Linked DNA regions of Homo sapiens: region 2 is linked to region 1. Evidence: fine-mapped expression QTL. Tissue or cell type: sigmoid colon. Region 1 holds a variant in brackets; the other region holds the start of a gene. All regions are shown on one strand. Distances are between the middles of the regions.

What was found. PIP is the estimated chance that this variant, and not a neighbour inherited with it, causes the effect.
Region 2: it holds the start of GRIN2A, and the variant in region 1 is fine-mapped to the expression of GRIN2A in sigmoid colon (GTEx, PIP 0.99).

The regions. Positions count from the first base shown.
Region 1 is chr16:9,777,139-9,785,138 of GRCh38, forward strand. All of the region lies in intron 11 of GRIN2A (glutamate ionotropic receptor NMDA type subunit 2A), which reads right to left. Among named protein-coding and RNA genes, the nearest start is that of LINC01195, 330 kb to the left of the region's middle. The variant C/T (reference allele first, on the strand shown) is at 3,916.
Region 2 is chr16:10,179,159-10,187,290 of GRCh38, forward strand. It overlaps GRIN2A (glutamate ionotropic receptor NMDA type subunit 2A), which reads right to left and starts at 3,270. Exons shown (of 13, transcript NM_001134407.3): 1 at 2,719-3,270; 2 at 840-1,271. The coding sequence starts at 1,253. RefSeq lists silencers at 2,358-2,467, 2,478-2,537.

The DNA.
Region 1 (8,000 bases):
CTCCCAGATGCAGCAGTGAGAAACTCATTCCTTTCTCTCTTCCCTGTGGTGACCCAACACCCATGTTGTTTTAAAGACAAATTTAAAAACTCTCAAAAGGACAAAACAAAGGCCCAATAAATCTGACAAATAAGAAAAAAAAATGAGCTAGAGAAAAATAAGACCCAAGTAACCCTGGGTTCAGAAATAATATTCTGGAGCCTGTGACCTCTGTTCTCACGATCTCAGAGGGTCACTGAACTATTTGCCGAAGTGAAAAAATACTTTTGATGGTGGTGGTGATAGGAAATAGTACAAGATTCTGGACACAAATAGATTGAATTTGGGAGATAAATATTCCTTATTTAAATGTCAGAATATTCCATTTCTGTATAATGCTGAGAAGTCACAAAACCAAAATAAAAATAGGGCTAGGCTTAAATGTATCCAGTTAGAGGCAGGGACAGGCTGTCTTTGGCATAAATGTTTCACCGCCACCTTCCAACTGAGATTTCTGCTCCATGGATGAAACTTGAGTATTGTTAAGTTCATTGCTACTTGTCACATTGCAGGATTTCACAGGCCACGTGATTAGTCGCACAAGTTGGATGGAGTTGGGGGATTTTATGCACACAGGTTCCCAACCATAAAATCTCCCAACTCTGGCCGGGTGCAGTGGCTCACGCCTGTAATCCCAGCACTCTGGGAGGCCGAGGCACGCAGATCACCTGGGGTCAGGAGTTTGAGACCGGCCTGGCCAACATGGTGAAACCCTATCTCTACTAAAAATACAAAAAATTAGCTGGGCGTGGTCGTGGGCGCCTGTAATCCCAGCTACTCAGGAGGCTGAGGCAGTAGAATCACTTGAACCTGGGAGGTGGAGGTTGCAGGGAGCTGAGATCGCGCCATTGCACTCCAGCCTGGGCAACAAGAGTGAAACTGTCTCAAAAACAACAACAACAAAAAACCCAACTACAACTTGTGCAGCTTCCCAACCAGTGTCTCTTTCAGAAGAAAAATTAAAAAGAGGATTGGACAATAAAAGATTGGACAACTCTATCAAACATCAAACAATACACATGGTCATAATTTTCCATTACTGGATGAAGTTGGAGAGATACAATTCTTTGAAGTAAGACGGCAGAAACCTTGTAGGAATCCAGGAAACCTTATTATATACCAAGCACTTCTGGAATCTGCTTAACCAATCTGCCTCACACAAATAAAGACGGTCAAGCTGACATGGCTTAAAAGGCACATGCATTTGTGAGCACAAATGAATTCATAGTGACTTTTTGCCATTGCATATTTTCTCAATCAATAGTCCTCAAAATCTGATGACTTATCATGGGAAGGTTATGAGGACTTTTTAATATCACAAAGGAGTTCTTGTGTTTTAAACACATACAGATTTAAGAAAAAAAAGGATAGCAATAACTTCAGATCCCGTGCTGTTTTGAGAGCCACTGGCTAAACTGGGTTTCCAGTACTACAGCAGCTAACAACCCTGCCCTAATGACCAACGAGGGGAAGTAAATCTGGGTGTTTACACGTGCCTTTCACAGGATGCTTCTTTTACCTAGTAGACAACCTCATGCCTAGTTTTCCTATCCATGACCAGGGGATCTCTCCCAGGAGGAACTTATTTATAACTGCTGATGCCCTTGCAGCTCTTGTCTGACCCATGTCCAGTTTATGTCTGCCTGATCATCGCTCTGGCACTGGAAGCCCAACCTTGTAGTCTCCCCGAGGGAAAACCCAGTCTGCGGTAGTTCCTAGGTCTTCAGATGAAAGGTGCAAATTCAATACACCACCATATAGAAAATAAGCTCAAAGATTTATTACTTACACATCCTGGGCAGGGAGGGTGCAATGAATCAAGAGGACAGTTTTCTGCTCCTGCATCACACAAGGCAAGAATGAAGAGTCAGCCCGAGAAAGAGAGAATGTGGCCAACTAGTGGTACATAAAAGGGAATAGCGTGCGGGTCACTTTAAGTTTGCAGGCAAATGCCTGAATGATCCATTTAAAGGAAGCAGTGGGAAAGCATGGAGCCTGGTCTCCCAGGTTGGGGAGATGCCTCTGAGTTCTTATCTCTGGCCAGGGGCTTCAGCCATTTGGGTGTGATGCTTCTCTTGTAACTCCAAGGTAACCTATGCTGTGTTGCTCAGTTCTACATGCCAAGAAATAGCTCCTCTTTTCAGCAAGTAAAATTATCTCACTGCTTTTCAGTTTCTTTTTTATCGAAGTGTTGTCAACAAGTTCCTTGAAGCTGTAAAATCCAGAAGCGAAATGGATCACTTCCATTTGATCTGTATTCCCCATTGCTTAGTATACACAAGGAGCTTAATGGGCATCGGAGACTTAGTTGTGGAATGAAGAGAGAAGGAGAGAGTGGAAAGGAAAGAAAAGAGGACAGGGAAGAGAAGGAGGAGGAAGAAAAAGGGGAATGGAGAAGGACAGAAAGTGAGAAATAAAACTATTACAGAAGGGACCCTATATCAGCTGTCAGAACCATCCGTAACTAAAGCAGAAGGAAGACCCTGTTTTTCTTTCCATAGAGGGTAATAGGGTGGTGTGCAGGGCTGGGTTATGACTTAGGAGAGCTCTCAGCTCTTCCTTTGATGACATCCTCCCGCTCCCCAGGTATGGAGGTGCTCCTCTGACCTCCTCTCCCTTTTCCCAAGTCTAAGGCACCAGATGGGGTGAGACAGTGGCCAGGGATGAGTGGAAGAGCACATGCGGGTGGCAGAGAAGCTAGATATCAATTCTAACTCAGGAAAGTAAGTGGGGCAGACTCCACAGTCCTCTGCCCCCATTGTACTGACATTAAATCTGAGGTCAGGTTACATGAACCAAGGTCACAAAATAAGGCAATGTTGATGTTGGGGCAAGAATCTGGATCTCTAAATGACTGGTGGCAACAGCCAACCACACAGCCACTGATGAAGACACCTAGAGTTCTGTTGCACAAGCCAGCTTTACCTCTTACAGAAAGTCGAAAAGGAGCACTTGCAAATTGGAGAAACTACCTGCACTGCTGGCAGGAATGTAAATTGGTTTACATTTTCAGAACACTGGTTCAAAGTATCTACTAAAGTTGAGTAGACGCGCTCTATTACCCAGCAATTTCATTCCTAGGTATATTTCCAAACCAATAAGTGCCTTTGTGCACAAGAAAGGTACAAAAATATCCAAAGCAGACAAAAACTAAAAGTGATGTAAATGCCCATCAGCAGCAAAATGGATAAATTTGTACGATAAAATACCACCCAGCAACGAAAAAAAATAATGAGCTGTGGTTACATGCAGTAATATGTATCAATGTCACAAGAGACATCAATGAATACATGTTGTATGATTCCACCATTTATTTGAGGATCAAAAGAAGACAAAACCACCCCATGGTCATGGAGGACAGAATGTTGATTACTTGTGGGGGGCATATTGACTGGCATGGGCCATGAGGAAGCTTTCTAGGATAGTGGTCACATTTTATAGCTCAATCTGGGTGGGAGTTGCACAGCTGTACAAAAATTAACTGGATATTGGGATTTGTGCAATATAACGAATGTATGTCATAGTTTATAGAAGGTAACAAATAGAAAAAAACAGTGAGTGGCATAGTACAGGTATAAGTGTTCTTTTACTTTGGGGGTTAAGTGAGGTAATAATAAGGAAAGTTGAAGAAAACAGACTTTCTAAACCAGAGGAGAGAAAAATACAAACTTTTTTAAGCGTGATATTTCTTTACAAAAAGAGAAAATTTCTTTAAGGATAAGGGGAAACCAGTCATGTTTAGTTAAATTCTTCCAATTGTTGGAATTGTTTCAAAATAACATGTCACTTTTATTGTTTAAGCCAGAGGTCACTAATCTTTTTTTTTTTTTATGGTAAACGGCCAATTAGTAAATATTTTCAGCACTACAGGCCATA[C/T]GGTCTCTATCACAACTACTCAACTCTGCCTTTGTAGCACAAAAACAGCCATAGACAATGCGTAATACAGGAATGAGTGTGGTTGTGTTCCAGTAAAACTTTATAAAAAACATGTAATGGGCCATAATTTGCAGAATTCTGATTTAACCAATCAAAACATGAAACATGAAATAACTTTTTATATTTATATAAAAGAGATAGCATGTTGCACCTTCTAAAATAGCAAAAAGAACTGTAATGCCTAATGCTGCTAGATAGTGGTAAAATTGGTACATTGATCCACTATTACTATTACTTTAGATGGAAACAAAACTTTTTTTTCTTTGAGACAGGGTCTTGTTCTGTCACCCATGCTGGAGTGCAGTGGAAGGAACACTGCTCTCTGCAGCCTCAACCTCCCAGGCTCAAGTGATCCTCCCACCTCAGCTTCCAAAGTAGCTAGGACCACAGGTGCATGCCACTATGCCTAGATAATGTCTTTATTTTTTGTAGAGATGGGGTCTCACCATGTTGCCCAGGCTAGTCTTGAACTCCTGGGCTCAAGCAATCCCCCCACCTTGGCCTCCTAAAGTGCTGGGATTACAGGTATGAGTCACTGCACCCAGGGTTAACAAACCTTTTGGGCATCAATATGACGCCATATATCAAGACTCCTAGAGATCTTTAGAACCAGTAACCTTTAAATTCTACATCTAAGAGTTTGTTGCAAATAGTTCAAAAGAAAAAAGAAATAGGCATGAAGAAATTTCTTCCATCGTTATCTATACTAGCCAAATATCAAAATGTGTAGCATTTGGAAAATAATGTAATGGTTTCTGGTTTAATAAAGATGATGACATTTTATGCAAAAAATTAAAATAATTGTGAAAGCAGATAGTATAGTTACATAAGAATGCTTAAAATGTAATAATAAGTGAAAAATCATGGACTATAAAAGTATATATAACCAATAATTATAATTAAAGAAATGTGTCTGCAAGTAACAGGGATCAGGAGATAATACATAAATTAAAAACAATTATGTTAAAGTAGTAGATTGGGGTGATTATATGTACAGTCAGCCCTTTCTGTATTTGTGAATTCAAATGATCACAGATTGAAAATATTTTGGGGAGAAAATGGTGTCTGCACTAAACATATACAGACTTTTTTTTCTTGTCATTGTTTCCTAAACCATACGGTGTAACAACTATTTAGATCGCATTTATATTGCATTAGGTATTATAAGTAAACTAGAGATGATTTAAAGTATAAGATGTGCATAGATTATATTCAAATGCTACACCATTTTATATCAGGAACTTGAGCATCCACAGATTTTGGTGTCTGTAGGAGACCCTCAAACCAATCCTCCACAATACTGAGGGACAACTGTATATATAATATATTGCCTTTCCAAATTAAAGTGTTTAAAAAATATAGACTGAGAGGGATTTGGGGCCACTGTTTATCCATGCCATAAATTTTGCACGAGCCTATGTGACATCAATGTTTGACTTACCAACAAGCCATTCATTATATCTTATTTCCACTTTGATGGTTCTCTTGACATTTGACTTTCTCTGGTTTGAGCAATTCACTGCTTGTCAGGCATGGGCCTGGCATGCTGACCTTGTACTAATCCTGGTGTTGGATTGATAACAGACACTAAGATTCTGAATCTCAACAGGCCCATTAGGGAATTCACTGCAAATTTACGCAGATTAAATCCCCTGGAGTTTTACCACTGAGGAAGACTCAGTGGCTCTCCAGGATATTTATGGATATTATCTGTTTCTTAATAAGTACTGTTCCATTATTATTCCAAATATGTCTCTAGTTAAAATTAGGAGGGAAATAAACAAGTCTAATTTTTATGGTATCATCTGGTCACAGGCCAATGGAGAAGCAGTTAAGTCCTTTATTGCTAATCTATGCTTAGAACTGACATATCTCTTATTTGAAAACGTTGCATTTCTGAATAAATGGTTTGCCCTAGACAGTTTTTGGGTCATAGGAGAGTAAGTGACTTAGTTGTTGGGGCATCAGAATGGTTATTAATGATCACCCCCTTCTGATGTCTATATCATCAGTGTATTATCTTTGTGTATACATGAGGTTTATGTACATGCAAAAGTCACCCACATACGTGGGAGCAATAATGAAATCCACATAAAAAATTAGACTCAATCAACGGTCTTTAGCTGCACTTTCCCCGTGGTTTCACATGAGACCCCGTCTACACGTATAAGGAATCAGGATAGCCATTGCGTCCAAATCTAGTTCCAGATCCGATTTAATCGATAGAAGTGCTGGCTCAGTCTTTACCCAAATGTGGGGTTTTCAGTTTTGCCTGCTTTATTTTTAACACTGTTATTATAGTCAATAAATGAAAATGAAATCTTTGGAAGCAATAAAGGCTTTCATGTCTATTTCGATCCTTCCTGGATGAGGAAGCTTAACATTAAAGCTTATCTGACTACGTCTTCCATTCATAGCCTACCCTCATATCTCCTATGTTCTTTATTGTGGTTGGCATGTGGACTAACGCTTAGAAGTGCCAAACCATTTATGCCTCTAGTTTTCACAATCACCAAGGGCTCTGTGTAAACCCAATTAGAAGCCCTGAGAGAAAGAGAATGAATAAAACTCAGGGCAAAGATTCAATATCATGGACCCCAACTGAGTGATTGGATGGCAACTGATATGTGTACTCAACGTCTGCCAATCACAGGATAAAATGTTTCTAAATGGTAAATATTGTTACTTTAAAGAGTGATTCTTAAACCTTATGGATGGAGCTGAAGACCATTATTCTCAGTAAACTAACAAAGGAACAGAAAACCAAATACCCCATGTTCTCACTTTCAAGGGAGAGCTAAAGGATGAGAACACATAGACATATAGAAGGGAGCAACACACACTGGGGCCTAATGGAGGGTGGAGGATAGGAGGAGGGAGAGGATCAGGAAAAACAAATAATGGGTACTGGGCTTAATACCTGGGTGATGAAATAATCTGTACAACAAACCCCCATGACACAAGTTTACCTATATAGCAAACCCGTACATGTACCCATGAACTTCCAACAAAAGTTTTTTAAAAAGAATTATATGGCTGGGTGTGGTGGCTCACAGCTCTAATCCCAGCACTTTGGGAAGCCGAGGTGGGTGGATCACCTGAGGTCAGGAGTTCAAGACCAGCCTGGCCAACATGGCAAAACCCAGTCTCTACTACAAATACAAAAATTAGCCAGGCGTGGTGGTGGGTGCCTGTAATCCCAGCTACTCGGGAGGCTAAGGCAGGAAAATTGCTTGAACCCAGGAAGCAGAGGTTACAGTAAGCCGAGATCTCACCACTGCATTCCAGCCTGGGCTACAAGAGCAAAACTCTAACAACAACAACAACCAAAAAAAAAAAACAAACAAACAAAAAACCTAAAACCATAAAAACCCTAGAAGAAAACCTAGGCAATACCACTCAGGACATAGGCATGGGCAAGGACTTCATGTCTAAAACACCAAAAGCAATGGCAACAAAAGCCAAAATTGACAAATGGGATCTAATTAAACTAAAGAGCTTCTGCACAGCAAAAGAAACTACCATCAGAGTGAACGGGCAACCTACAGAATGGGAGAAAATTTTTGCAATCTACTCATCTGACAAAGGGCTAATATCCAGAATCTACAATGAACTCAAACAAATTTACAAGAAAAAAACAAACAACCCCATCAAAAAGTGGGTGAAGCATATGAACAGACACTTCTCAAAAGAAGACATTTATGCAGTCAAAAGATACATGAAAAAATGCTCATCATCACTGGCCATCAGAGAAATGCAAATCAAAACCACAATGAGATACCATCTCACACCAGTTAGAATGGCAATCATTAAAAAGTCAGGAAACAACAGGTGCTGCAGAGGATGTGGAGAAATAGGAACACTTACACTGTTGGTGGGACTGTAAACTAGTTCAACCATTGTGGAAGTCAGTGTGGCGATTCCTCAGGGATCTAGAACTAGAAATACCATTTGAGCCAGCCATCCCATTACTGGGTATATACCCAAAGGATTATAAATCATGCTGCCATAAAGACACATGCACA
Region 2 (8,132 bases), 400 kb after region 1:
CCCTCCCTCTCATTCAGAGCCAACTGATTTTTGTACACTCTTTCTTGCATTTTGAGACTCTCCAACTTTAGTACCAAGACCCATCTTTGTTCAGGAGCCAACTCCTTCATCTGAGGGCCTTGGAGCCCCAGACAAAGAACACGTAAGGAAAATGCCAGGCCCTCCATGCTCTGGGTTTGGAGTTAATTCTTTCCACTCCCACCCACTCCCCTTGAGGAACGGGTCTCTCCTCCGCTCCTCTGGCCCAGGGCTTCTCAAACTCCCCACCTCTGTTCCTCTAACTGCAGAGTCAGAGGAAGCATGACATTTTTTCTGCCCTTTTGTGCTTTACCTAAAAACTTTGCATTTTCTTCCAGAACCTACCCACATTTAATAATTTTTAGAAATAGTTTTAGTCACTTACCATAAGAGGAAAAAATGGACATTTTCCCACAAAACAATCAGGTAAAACTGGCATTGTGAAAATAGGAAGCATATGTCTCCAGTGCTCCTGGGCCCACCTCTGTGCCCCATGGTACTCGTAAATCTCCAAACATGCCACCACCGCCACCACCACCACCCCACAGCCTACTTCTCAGTTTTCTGAGCGCTTCCTGGCACACACACACCAAAGTGCTCCTGTGTACACCATTTTCAGAAACAAGGCAAAAGGCATTTCCATTCATTTCTGGGTTGGAGAGGCAAGACCTGGTTCTCACCAGGGCCAGTGGCCACGACCCTCCCACCCCCACCCCCACTTCACATCAAGACAGATTCTAGGGGCGTCCGAAGACCTGCAGCAGCTGCCATGCAGCTGGTGGCTTCCCAGGTCCTGGCAGGGCATCAGTTTCCGGCCTTACCTTGTCAGCCATGATCATAGATGCGCCCCCATGAATGCCCAAGATGGGGACGAAGGTGTGGGAGGAGATAAAATCCAGCATCTGGGCTACGGCCTCCTGGTCCGTGTCGTCCCCAAACACGAGGCCGTGGATGCGTGCCCCGGACATGAGGTCGCACACGTGCGTGATGAGGCTCTTGGGGTCGGTGCGGTTCATCAGCAGAGCTACCACGTTCACGTCCAGGGGCAGCCCCGCCGCCTGCTCGGGGCCCCACAGTGTTCGAAGTTCGCGCTCTGTCACGTCGTGGCTGTGACCCAGCATCACCGCAATATTTAGCGCGGGGGGACCCTTCTCCGCCGCCGCGCTCGGCGCCGGACCGCGCCAGACCAGAAGGGCCGGCAGCACCAGCAGGGTCCAATAGCCCACTCTGCCCATAGTCGCCACTGACGGTCCCTGCAAGGTGAAGAGTGAGAGGCAGGGCCGCGGTGAGCAAGGCGACCAGAAGAAAGGGATTACCAACTTGGCTTCCTGCTCTAGGAGCCAGGCATGGAACTCAGCAGCAGGATAGGCTGCTGGGATCACGGACTCCATTCCGAGTCCCCGACGCCATCCACATCCCTCGATCCATCTCTAACTCTATCCACAACTCCAATTCGAGCTAATTCTCCATCCCCCAGCCCCTTCTCGCATCCAGCTTCCTCATCCCCTGTCTCCAGGCACTTCCCCATCCCCATCTCTGTCCATATCCCCCACCGCATTCCCCAAGTTCGCCGCGGGCCACAGACCCTAAGCGCCGCGCGTGTTCTGTACCCCACCAAGCTCCTAGGTGCACAGAATAAACCCTCCATCCAACCCCTCCCACCTGGGATAGAGAGGACCAAGTTATCAACCCCGCCCCCTGCTGGCGCGGAGCGAACTACAGACCCCGCAGGGCGTGCGGAGGCGGCACCCAGACCCCGCGTCCCAGCTTGAGAGCTCAGCTAGTTGGCTGACCCCGCCCCCTACGAGCCCGTCGTGTGCACCACACACTTTGCTCTACGCCCAGCCCCAACTACAGACCCGGCTCCTCTCAGTCAGAGTACACCCCAAGTGCTTGGGAGTGAGGACGCTGCCTGGTGGGCCCAGGCTCCGCTGTGCCTGGGGAACTTGGGGCTCGCCCCACCTCGAGCCAAGGGGCCGTGGAGAGTCCTTCACCCCTACACGCGCGCGTGCACACACACGTGCACACACACACGCACACACACATGTTCACACACACACACCCTCTCTCACGCGCGCCGTGTGCAATGCTGAATTCTGGAGAGTAGGCGCGTCCCCCCGCGGGCCAGCGCGTAGGAGCTGGCAAAGAACGTGCGTAGGGGGAAAGGTAGGCTCCCAAGAAGCTCCCAGACGGACGTGGACTGTACAGCCCCTCCCTAGCCTTTCTACTGCGGGCGCTGTTGCCAAGTCCTAGGTGCACGTGGGCAGTGGGCCGCACACGCTCATAGGCACGCGCGCTTTTCTGCGCACTTCCTCAGACTGCTGTAGCGGTGCCCACGGCCAGCCGGAGTCCTCACATGTCCTCAGGTGGTGCACACGCATGAACTGCGGCAGGTGCACAGCCCTGCGTACCTGCAAATACCAGCACGGTCGTGCACGCGTGCCCTGACGCGCGCCTCTCGGGACGGACGCTGCTGGAGCCGGGGGAAGTTGAGGCGAACTCCAAGAGGCCTCGACGTTCCTGGGTAAGCGCCGCGGAGCGCGGAGCCGCAGCGCCCCCTGGTGCCCCTCCTGCACTTCGCCGCTGGGCTCCCTCCCGCTTTCCCTCTCCCTCTCTAGCCTGATCCCTCTCCCGCTCTCCCTCCGGTCGAGTCTCCCTCCTCCCCGGCCCAAGGAGCCCTGATCTCCCTCTGGGACGTACCTGTAGCCCGAGAAGGTCGAGGATGCAGTGGGGCGCGCTGCGCGCACGAGCATCTCGGCCGCCTCAGCAGCCACCGGGTTTAGCGGGTTCCCGCATGCTGCGGCCCCAGCGCGCTCCCCTGGCTGTCCCGCGCTGTCCGCATCGCCCCCACGGGGGGCGGCTATCCCAGCCGGAGGCTCTGCAGCAGGGCTCTAACGGGGCGGAGGAGAGAAGGAGAGGCAGGGTCAGCCCACCAACGAGGGGAGGGAGGGTTGAGGGGAAGGCTGCAGTCTGCAGTGCTCACAAGCCCCCCTATGCGCCCAGGGGGGCTAGACAAGAGGGGGGAAGCTGAAGCCCGATGCCCACGACGCCCCCAGTGCGGATCCTCAGCCCCTGTGGCTGATAGCGGGAGCTCCACTCCAGGGTGCACAGGAGAATGGGAGCCCCAGGTTGGCCACCCACGAGAAGCTAACTGGGCACCTCCACCCGCACCCCCTACCACCTCCCCAGCGCCGGCTGCTGGGAGTTGTGCGACCGGGAGCTGCTGAGCGAGGGAGGTAGGGAGAGAAAGAGGAGGTAACGAGGGTGGGGGGGCGCTGGCTGAGTTTGTGACGAGCCAGCAGTAGGAGAGGGGGAGGGAAGGACGCGGGCTCCCGCGGTCCCGGTTCCCCGAGGGAGGTGGATCTTTCCCACGCAGCGACCCTCTTGTGATCCTGCCGCTTCCTCCCTCTTCAGGCCTCCCACCTCCCCCCTTCCCAAGGGGGCCTCCCAGGCCCGGCGTCCCGCGCTAGCACTCACCGCAGCCTCTCTCCACATAGTTCTCAGCAGTGGCCGCTCCTGGTCATCTCCAGGGCTGATGGCTGCGGCCGCGATTCTCAGCGCTCACCCGGTCCCATGATCCGGCCAAGCCCTAGGAGCTCCCCTCCAAGATCCCTAGCTCCGCTTCCTGCCCCACTCCGGACGGCAACTGCCCGGTCCTCTGAGCGCGCCGGAGCACCCTCTCCGCAACCCAGCTCCGGGCTGGTGTGTTTGAGGGCGAGTGTGTGTGTGAGTGTGGGAGCGCGCTCGCGTGTGGCCGGGGATCCCCGCGGTCCCCGGCCGAGAGAGGCGCGGGCGGGGAAAGGCAGCTCCCTCCGGGCCCTTCGCTGCTGGGCCAGCTCCGCGCCGGGCGTTCGGCTCCCCACTTCCCAGCGGGAGTCCGGTGAGCGCCTGGACACCCTGGTTCACAGCACTGGCAAAGCCGGGTTCCCGGGGCGTCTTTCTGCTGCGGTCGCCTCCGAGGAAGAGGAGAAGGAAGGTAGCGGCGCCCTCCACACCAACTTAGGGACTTGTTCTCAGCCGGCGAGACGCAGTAGCCCCCGCTCAAGCCCAAGAGGCTTCGAGCTCCGGCGGGCGAAAGCGTCTCCTGCCCGCAGCCTCTCTCCTAGGTGGGTCGAGACAGACCCCGCAGTCCCTCGGCGGCGACGCGGAGCGCGGCCACCCGTTCCGAGAGCGCACGGCGGCAAATAAGGCCAGGATAGGTGGCTGGCTGGCGACGGGGGCGCCTGCGGCGGCGCGCGCTGCTGTCCGTGGTGTTGGAACCACGCTCTCCGCCCGCTCCCGGGCGTCTGGTGCGGCTGAAGAATCAATTATTCAGATCTCTGCTACCGCTTCCTCCTCCCCCAGTGCCTCGCGCTGGGTACAGTTATCCCCCTCCACGCACAGGCGCGCCGACACACACACACACACACACACACACACACACACACACACAGAGTCTGCTCCAATGCTTCTCCCTGTGCCTCGCCACCCCCGTACGGGAACCCACTCCTCTGATCTCAGGGAGCCAGAATCCTAAAAGCAAAGACATCTGCATTTCCCACATGCTTCCTTCTAAGTTCTACCAAACAGAAGCCTCCCTGAGGCTGCCACTTCTAAGCTACCAGAAGAGGTGAGCCAGAGAACATGGGACGGCCCGGGTGTGTGAGGGCTTGGTTGACTTGAATTCTAGCGACTGGGCATGAAATACATGGTCAAGGGAGGAGCTCTGCCCCTTTTATATTCACCTGTATCTCCAACGCCTGTCTGCCTTTCAGGCCTTGGAAGGAAAGGGGTCTTAAATTCTAAGAGGTTTTGCAATGACTGTTCCAACCCTGCCTCCTCCACTTAACCTAATGTCACCTGCTGCGGTCTAAATGTGTGTGTTCCCACCCCCAAATTCATAGGATAAAATCCTAACTCCCAAGGTGATGGTATTAGGAGGTGGGGACTTTAGGAGGTGACTTCATGGCTTCATGAGAGTAAAATGGGATTTGTGGTCTTATAAAAGAGATGCCAGAGAGTCAGCTAGGTCCTTCCACCAAGTGAGACTTAATCAAGAAGGCATCGGCCTATGAACAGGAACTAGGCCCTCCCCAAATACTGAGTCTGCTGCTGCTTCATCTTGGACCTCCCAGCCTCAAGAAGTGAGAGAAATAAACTTCTGCTGTTGATGATGTTTTGCTATGGCACCTGGATCAAACTAAAATATCACTTTTGGACATTATATTACTTCCCTTTATTGATCACTAATCTGGAAATGGGGGGCAGTAAAAACATCTACTTCTCAGGATTATTTTGAAAAGAAAAGGAAGTAGCCTTAATAAAGGGGTCAACAAGGTCTGGCACATAGTAGATGCTCAATCAACATCATGCACCTTGAAGTAGCCTGGAAGCAGGGGAACTTCTTCCAAGAATGTGGATGTGGCTGCTGAAATGGAGACAGGAGAGGGGCACAGTGTGTGGAGACAAATGGATTCATTATTGAGCTGGTTGTTCTATGCTGGGTTTCCTGGGTTTTTGTTTTTGTTTTTTTTTTAATCCAAAAGACAGAGAAAGCGTGAGGGAAATGCTGGAAAGTAAATTAAAATGGGGGATTGTATAATATAAGGCAGGGAACAGGAAAATGTTTCCTTTCTTGAGTCTATGGCTGGGCTGAACTGATTAGGCCACTCCTTGGCACCCATGCAAGACTCTGGCTTGGGGTCTAAAGGGGAAGTTAGGCCATTTTATTTAAATGAGTTATAAATTATAGACAATAAAATGCATATCTCTCAAGGGTTTCATTTGTGAAGGTTTTTTGGTGTTTTTTTATTTTTTTGTTTGTTTGTTTTGTTTTGTTTTGTTTTTTTGACAGGGTCTCACTCTTGCCCTGGCTGGAGTGCAGTGGTGTGGTCGTAGCTCACTATTAACTTGAACTCCTAGGCTCAAGTGATCCTTCTGCCTCAGCTTCCCAAGTAGTTAGGACTTGTGGTGGTTAGCACATGCCACCACATCTGGCAAATTTTTTATTTTTTGTAGCCATTGGGTGTTGCTATGTTGTCCATGCTGGTCTCAAACTCTTGTCTTTACGAAATCCTCTGGCCTTGGCCTCCCAAAGGCTGAAATTACAGGTGTGAGCCACTGCACCCAGCCAGTTTGTTACTTTTGAGATTGTGTGTATCCACATAGACCGTCACGTAAAATGAGGTACAGAGTATTTTCATCACCACCAGGAAGTTTTCTTGTGTCCCTTTGTTGTCAATCCCACTCCCCCCATTCAGTGTAAACTACAATTTTGATTTCTAATACCATGTATTAGTTTTGCCCTTTTCTGAACTTCATATAAGTGGAATTTTACACTATGTATTCTTTGGTGACTGGCTTTTTTCACTTACCCTGATGTCTAGAAGATTCCTCTGTGTTGTTGCATGTATCAACAGCTTTTTTATTTTTTATTGTTGAGCAGCTAGCTCTCTATTGCATGGATAAGCCACACTTTGTGTATCCAGTCTCCTGCAATGGATATGTGGGTTTTATCTATGGGACTTTTTAAAATACAGATGTGGCTGGGTGCAGTGGCTCACGCCTGTACTCCCAGAACTTTGGGAGGCTAAGGCAGGAGGATCACTTGAGCCCAGGAGTTTGAAACCAGCCTGGGCAACATGATGAGAGCCCAGGAATTTGAAACCAGCCGGGGCAACATGATGACAACCCAAGTGTTCACACTGCTGCACTCCAGCCTGAGTGACAGAGTGAGACTTTGTCCCAAAAAAAATAAATAAAGAAAATAAAACACAGATGCCTATGCCCACTCTAGATCTACTCCATCAGGATCTCCAGGTGTGGGGCCAAGCACGGACAGTTATTTTAGATCCATAGGGGATTCTGATGATGCCTCTGCACTTGCTATTCTCATAAATTGATGCTGACCCTGAAATTGGATTTGTCTTTCTTGAAAAATACTGGTATTCAGGGTTTTAAGTTATTCATGATCAGACTTATAGAAAGATAAATCAAACTGATACGGCCTCTTTTGAATAGAGAAAGAAGGCAGCCCTTCATTGGAAGGGACACTGTGCCTCTAAACATAGGCACAGGAGGCTGGAGTTGCACTGGGGTGGACATGTCACCAGGGTGGAGCACATCGTGTGTCAGGCACCTGGAACTTCACCATACATGCAGAGACTGTGACAGCGTGTATAAGATCATGACAGCCTTACTCCATCTATGCTGCCAAGCTTAATTCTCAATGCAGCTTAGGATGCTAAGCAGAATTTTGCTGCTCAAAGAGTTTCAGATGATAAGAAAAACTTCTTCATAGCAGCTATATCAACTGTGATGGTTAATACTGAGTATCAACTTGATTGGATTGAAGGATGCAAAGTATTGTTCCTGGGTGTGTCTGTGAGGGCGTTGCCAAAGGAGATTAACATTCGAGTCAGTGGACTGGCAGACCCACCCTCAATCTGGGTAGGCACCGTCTAATCAGCTGCCAGCACAGCCAGAATAAAAGCAGGCAGAATATGGAAAGACTAGACTGGTTCAGTTTTCTGGCCTCCATCTTTCCCCTGGGGCTGAATGCTTCCTGCCCTGGAACATCGGACTCCAAGTTCTTCAGCTTTGGGACTCGGACTGGCTTCCTTGCTTCTCAGCTTGAAGTCTATTGTGAAACCTCACCTTGTGATCATGTGAGTCAATATTCCTTAATAAACTCCCCTTTAGTCTGGGCACGGTGGCTCATGCCTGTAATCCCAGCACTTTGGGAGGCCGAGACGGGTGGATCACCTGAGGTCAGGAGTTCAAGACCAGCCTGACCAACATGGTGAAACCCCAGCTCTATTAAATACAAAAAATTAGCCAGGCATGGTGGTGTACACCTGTAATCCCAGCTACTTGGGAGGCTGTGGCAGGAAAATCACTTGAACCTGGGAGGCGGAGGTTGCAGTGAGCTGAGATTGTTCCACTGCACTCCAGCCTAGGCAACAAGAGCAAAACTCCGTCTCAAAAAAAATAAAAAATAAAATAAAATAAAATAAACTCCCCTTTATATATACATCTATCCTATTAGTTCTGTCCCTCTAGAGAACCCTGGCTAACAGAACCGACAAAGACTTCTCTAAGTGAAAGAACAAGGAGCAGCTCTTCCACATACCTGG